Linked DNA regions of Homo sapiens: region 2 is linked to region 1. The links come from fine-mapping of genetic effects on plasma protein levels. A gene starts in region 1. The other region holds a variant in brackets. All regions are shown on one strand. Distances are from middle to middle.

Region 1 (2,917 bases):
TTTTCTAACACATAATCTTATTTTTTTTAAAAAAAAAACAGCCCACAATTTTCAGCAGTTTTTACTTTCTTTTTTCTATTTACTAGCATCATTTGACATAAGTAGTGGAAATGAGCTTCTGAAAATATACTTAATTTTCATATTATAAATCTTATTTTCTATAGTTTTATTAGGAGACAGTGTTATAACATTTTATATCTGGCAGAAACTCGAATACAGTAATTTTAATTTATTCATTAATAATGAATAAATTAGATGAGATACGCAAGGCTCAGAAATATTAAGAATTGCTCCAAACACCCAGATATTGTGGAGCAGAGTCAGGATGGCAGCTGCAACCTTCTGACTTCCAATCCAGGGCTCTTCATACAAGAAGGCTGTCCTGTATATGTGACAGATACAAGTTCCTATCTGAACACTGTCTTTATTAACAAGTTTTCGTGTGCATAAATGGGTGCCTTTGAAGATCTGGATACTTAATTGGGGAGCATCATCTGGAGTGTTCATGTTGGCTAAAGTAGCTCTTGTCAGGAATACGTATACCAGCAGATGCATCAGTTAGAATATTCTTTTCTCCAATGGGTTTAAGACATACTTTCCTAAGAATTGAGTTTCTGAAACACTGAACAACACCCAAACCCTGCAATCCAAATTTGTTTTTGCCTATTACACTGAAGTCTCTCTGTTAACAGGCATATATAGAAGACAACCATTTTTTTCAATATAATATTTCATAAGTTAGATGAAATCTTTTGTTCCATTATATAAAGTTCAGAAAATCAACATAAAATTAATAATGATGTTAAAGAAACTACTGGAAACCAGATAAATACAATACAATCTATAATTGTTTTCAAGTTTTTTGGACATTTCGCATACTTCTCCAAGTTTTCTACATTATGTTATAAAGTTCTAATAAGTTCATTTATGTGAAAAAATTAACTTTTTTTGATACTTGATATTTATATTATTACTAAAAAGCACTTCATCCGAGAGAAAGTTTCAAAGAAAGCCTTCCTTTTATAGGAAGAGGAGAGGAACATTTAAACTATGTATTATTACCAAATTGATATTCAAAAAATATATTCAACTTCAAAAGGCAAATGACTAGTTTAGACATGCTTGAGAGAGAGACATTCACTTTAAGGTTCTGGGACAACTCCTTTGATATATCTCCATCTTAAAAACAAGCAAACAAACTCTTGTTTGGAGAGGGTATTTAGAGCCATAAATAATTTTTTACTGGGTCTATTTTTGAGTTGGAGCAGGAGTAAGAAATACATTTTATATGGAATTTTAAATCACTTTTCAATTTATGAACCTAGCCTAGAAAGTCTGTGTAAAATGAAATATTTTAAAAGTTACAGTATTATCTGTATCTTCATTTCTATATGTATGTATCTATCATCTGTGTACCTACTCATCTATCTATCTAATTATTCTTTCTTTCCAGCAAATGTTCACTTCTGGTTTCCCTACGTCTGCCTGGAAGTGGGGGCAGTATGGCAGTATGGAAGACCTAGAAAGGGACAAGGAGAGCTACAATAACAGCGGTCTAAATATATCCTAGGATGAAAAGGTGAGGAAGGAAACAGGCGCAGAAGTGTTATAAGAAACCAAAGCGGCCTTTTGAGAAGGGATGTAAGAGCAGGCCCCTGAGCAGTTTCACTTCCTCTGGGCGCCCAGCAGAGCGGAGCCCTGGCCTTGCGGGCATGAGCCCCGGGGCTGCGTTTCCTGAGACCTGGCCGCAGCCTCCGCGGGTGGCAAGCGGGCTGGGGAGAGCCGAGGGCCAAAGGAAGAGAAAATCGCGGGGAGTCTCTGGCCGGGAGAGTCCAGGTAGCGCTCGGCGGGCAGCAGTGCGCAGGCCCCTCGGCTTCAACCGCCACAATGCTGCCAGCAGCGCCAGGCAAGGGGCTTGGGAGCCCGGACCCCGCCCCCTGCGGCCCAGCGCCCCCAGGTGGGTAGTCGCGCATTCGGAGGGGCTTGACGCCGAGGCCGGGCTACGGGGCTCTGCGGAGACCACGGGCCATCGTTAGACAACTGCACTCGGGCACTGAGGCCAGGGCGTCCCTGAGACAGGGCTTCTCCTTTTTATCCTGCCGCCAGGCAGCCCAGAGGGTTCTTCTGTCCCTGACTTCTCTGAGGGGCATCTGGACGCCACGAGGAGGGAGCGCGCTGGGAGTTCTGGCCAGCGGGCTACCCTCAGTGTCTGCAACTTCTGAGGAGCTGGAACTTTCCCCAGCACCCGGGTCAGGGTCCTGTAGTTTCTAAAATCACTTTGCAACCTGTTTTAAAGCAATGCGCGTTTAAAATTATACGTAATTATTTTCAACAGTCGGTAAGCACAGAAAAACCGCTCATGTGTAGCGTCACGCATTTACCTGCCCGGCCTGACAAATCCCAGCCTGGTGAATTGGTAGCCCTGCTTCTTGGCAGGTGGCTTTGCAGAGAAACTCTACCAACACCACCTCCCTACTCCACTGGCTTTACTAACTTGGTCAAAGGAAAACGGTCAACTTGGTTGAATGCAGAAGTAGATTTATATTTTCAAATGGACGTTAAGGCAGTTTTATTTAGTTCTTTTTGAAGCATTTCAAATGCATTTGCAAATTACTCAGTGATATAAAAATGTTTTTTAAATTAAAAAACTTCACTTAGGTATTAATATTACTGGAGTGTTCGTGGTGAGAAATGCAACAAGAAAGTATATTCTGAGTGAAAGTTTCTTAATTTGCTGAATAGAAATAAATTTCTCATACCTTTCTAGAATTTTTTAGGTAATGTAATTTTGGTTGTAGCTATTTCTGTTGGCTAGTGCATTTTTACATAAATAAGCTTTAGGGATTGCTTTCAGTTAAATAAGAAGTATATTTGTGTCAATGAAAAGTGACAAGAAAGGACTTAGAGCCCATAACTT
Region 2 (2,917 bases), 39 kb after region 1:
TCTACCCTAAAATATTCAGATCTGTATCACTGTGAATCAAGTTTTCTGCTTTGGAACTTTACATAAATACAATTATGCAATATATACTCTTTCTTCTTTCACTCAATATTATGTCTTTCGATTCATCCATGTTGCATGTAGCATTGTTACATTCTTTTTCATTGTTATGCAATATTTTATAGTATGAATATACTGTGAAAATTAGTTTTGTAAAAATTTTCTTATAATTCATCTGGCCTTGAAAATGCTCTAAAGAAATCAAGACCAACCTCACATTTCTCTTATTGTGGTGACTTTGTTTTCTTTCCTGGATATGTGAAGAAATTTTATAATTATCATTAAGTTAAGGACAATTTAATCAAGATCTGTTTTCTCTTCTTTTTTTTTTGAGACAGAGTCTCACTCTGTTGCCCAGGCTGGAGTGCAGTGGCATAATCTCCGCTCACTGCAAACTCCGCCTCCTGGGTTCAAGCCATTCTCCTGACTCAGCCTCCCAAGTGCCTGGGACTACAGGCACCCACCACCACACCCAGCTAATTTTTTGTATTTTTAGTAGAGATGGGGTTTCACTGTGTTAGCTAGAATGGTCTCGATCTCCTGACCTCGTGATCAGCCCGCCTCAGCCTCCCAAAGTGCTGGGATTACAGGTGTGAGCCACCGCGCCGGGCAAGATCTGTTTTCTTTAACAGTTTTAGCTGGAGCCTGATTGTTTCACATTGATCCATAGAGCTGGTTCCTTTATCTTTCTTATTTCAAGGATTTTAAAAATTATTAAAAATTACATGTTTTACAGTGTTTTAATGTGTATATTATTCTCTTCTACGTCAGGCTTTTGGATCATCCTTATACTGAATCTTTTCTGTTTTTGACTCTCAACTAAATATATCGTATTTTCAACAATTGTGTTAGCCTTGTTCTGTTTCTCCTCCTTTGTTTTTTTTTGATTTACTATGAAAATATCAAGCTTTTCTTTTGGGCCAGAAATTAAAATATTATCTATAACATTATCTATGTCTAATCTACTTATTTCTTTTTCTAATTTATTTATTATCTGGGTAATGGTATTGTTTTGGCTCGTTTCCTTATTTATTATACTCTTTCATATCATTCTTTTTAAAATTTAAATCAACTTGTCTTTGAATTCTAGTTTTATTTAATCTATGATTTTTTATACTATGAAGGACTTTCATAGAGTTTTTCTCTGGTATAAGCAAATTAATATATTGCCTAGTGAGCATATTAAAATTTTTGAGAAATAATAATTTAACCTGCTGATAGCATTGCAAATATAAGAAAATATTTTTTCTTTTTCCAGGAAATACAAAAGATATAATAATGATATATGAAGAAGATGCTGAGGAATG[G/C]GCTCTGTACTTGACAGAAGTATTTTTACATGTTGTGAAAAGGGAAGCCATCCTGTTATATCGCTTGGAGAATTTCTCTTTTCGGCATTTGGAGTTGCTGAACTTAACGTCTTACAAATGTAAACTTTTGATATTATCAAATAGCCTGCTTAGAGACCTAACTCCAAAGAAATGTCAGTTTCTGGAAAAGATACTTCATTCACCAAAAAGTGTAGTTACTTTGCTTTGTGGAGTGAAGAGTTCAGATCAGCTCTATGAATTACTAAATATCTCTCAAAGCAGATGGGAGATCTCAACTGAACAGGAACCTGAAGACTACATCTCTGTAATCCAGAGTATCATATTCAAAGGTAGTGTTGCCAAACCTTGTTTGTTTTATTTTTATTTGTTTTTTTTTTTTTGTAATTAAAGAATTGCAAGTTGTTTTAGAACCAATAACTGGTGTCAGGATAGGAATAAGAAAAATGAGAGCTGATTTTATTCAACAGTATGTTGTACTGTCCACAAAATACATTAAGTTTCTTAATTTTTAGCTCTATTCCAATCAAGGCTTATTCCTTGTTCTAAACATGGCTTATAAATATATTCTTTAGGGCAGCCTGGATGAGATCATGGCAGAACAAGTATGGTATGCTCAAGTCATATGACAGTTTGGTTCTGGAAGCTGGTTTCTTATGTAACTGGTGAGGCATGAGTTAATATACTCTAGTGGTGTTACCAGTCAGTAGCAGTTCAAGGTTTGAAGGTCTGGGTTACAATTACAGAGCTTTTAAAATTTTAAGCATGTAACCTTTAGATAAAAGAAAATACCAGGTCCCATTAATTAATTAATTACATTTCCATGTAATAATAAAAATGCTGCAGCTTACAATGTTAAAGCTTCTCCCTTCCACAGTTTTATTCTGCTAGGTGTGAAAGGGGTGCTGTGGTCAGCTGCTTCCCTGGTTTCCTTAGTCTGCCCTTTGCTCTCAACTCCCAGTCTTCTAACTATGGTTTCATGGCTTAAAGGGAAGGAGTGAAGCTATCATTTTATCTTGGCCACACCAGATTAAAAGTTGGCTATTTTTTTTGGAGCAAATTTCTGAGTTTTGGGAAATTCCTTATTCGCTGGGAATGTCTCTCTTGCAGTTTCTTAATAAGTCAAATAGTCCCTCTTCTCTAAGATCATAGCTGTGGTTGTCTAATGCATATAGATTCTTACTGTTGAGTTCTATGGCTCCTTCATGTGTCTCTCATGATGAAAATGGCACTGAGATACCTCCTGGCTGGGTGTTTCTCCTACCTTGTCCACATCTATCTGAAGATAAACCTTCCTTTATCTTCATTTATCTTTTTCCGGACAAACTCTGGGCATACAAGCCATTCCCAGAGTAGCTATCACCATCCTGCCCTCAGAGCAGCAGTACAGCCACAGTCTCTTGCCTTTAGTAATTTCCAAACCTGGATCCAGCATAAGTGTTGGAGTTCTGTAAATCCAGGGAACCTATATCAACCCCAAATGGTTCGCTGGAAGCTTTTCTCACTATACTTCTTCCCTGGTGGAAAACAACTTT

Which allele goes with the higher level. Positions count from the first base shown, and alleles are read on the strand shown. Strength reflects both the effect of a copy and how common the allele is.
As copies of C replace G in region 2, the plasma level of the protein whose gene starts at base 1,737 in region 1 goes down (weak association).

What was found. A credible set is the group of variants that fine-mapping cannot tell apart. PIP is the posterior inclusion probability: the model's chance that the variant is causal. Protein levels are from antibody-based Olink assays in UK Biobank. Linkage for the fine-mapping came from a reference panel and not from the study's own genotypes, which makes the PIPs less certain.
Region 2: its variant is the best candidate, but not a certain one, in a credible set for the plasma level of the BANK1 protein (UK Biobank, PIP 0.51). The variant lies in the coding sequence of BANK1. If it changes the protein, the assay may bind it differently, which can mimic a change of level.

Annotation. Positions count from the first base shown.
Region 1 is chr4:101,788,994-101,791,910 of GRCh38, forward strand. It overlaps BANK1 (B cell scaffold protein with ankyrin repeats 1), which reads left to right and starts at 1,737. Exons shown (of 17, transcript NM_017935.5): 1 at 1,737-1,957. The coding sequence starts at 1,888. RefSeq lists a silencer at 1,824-2,013.
Region 2 is chr4:101,828,493-101,831,409 of GRCh38, forward strand. It overlaps BANK1 (B cell scaffold protein with ankyrin repeats 1), which reads left to right. Exons shown (of 17, transcript NM_017935.5): 2 at 1,316-1,714. Among named protein-coding and RNA genes, the nearest start is that of BANK1, 39 kb to the left of the region's middle. The variant G/C (reference allele first, on the strand shown) is at 1,365.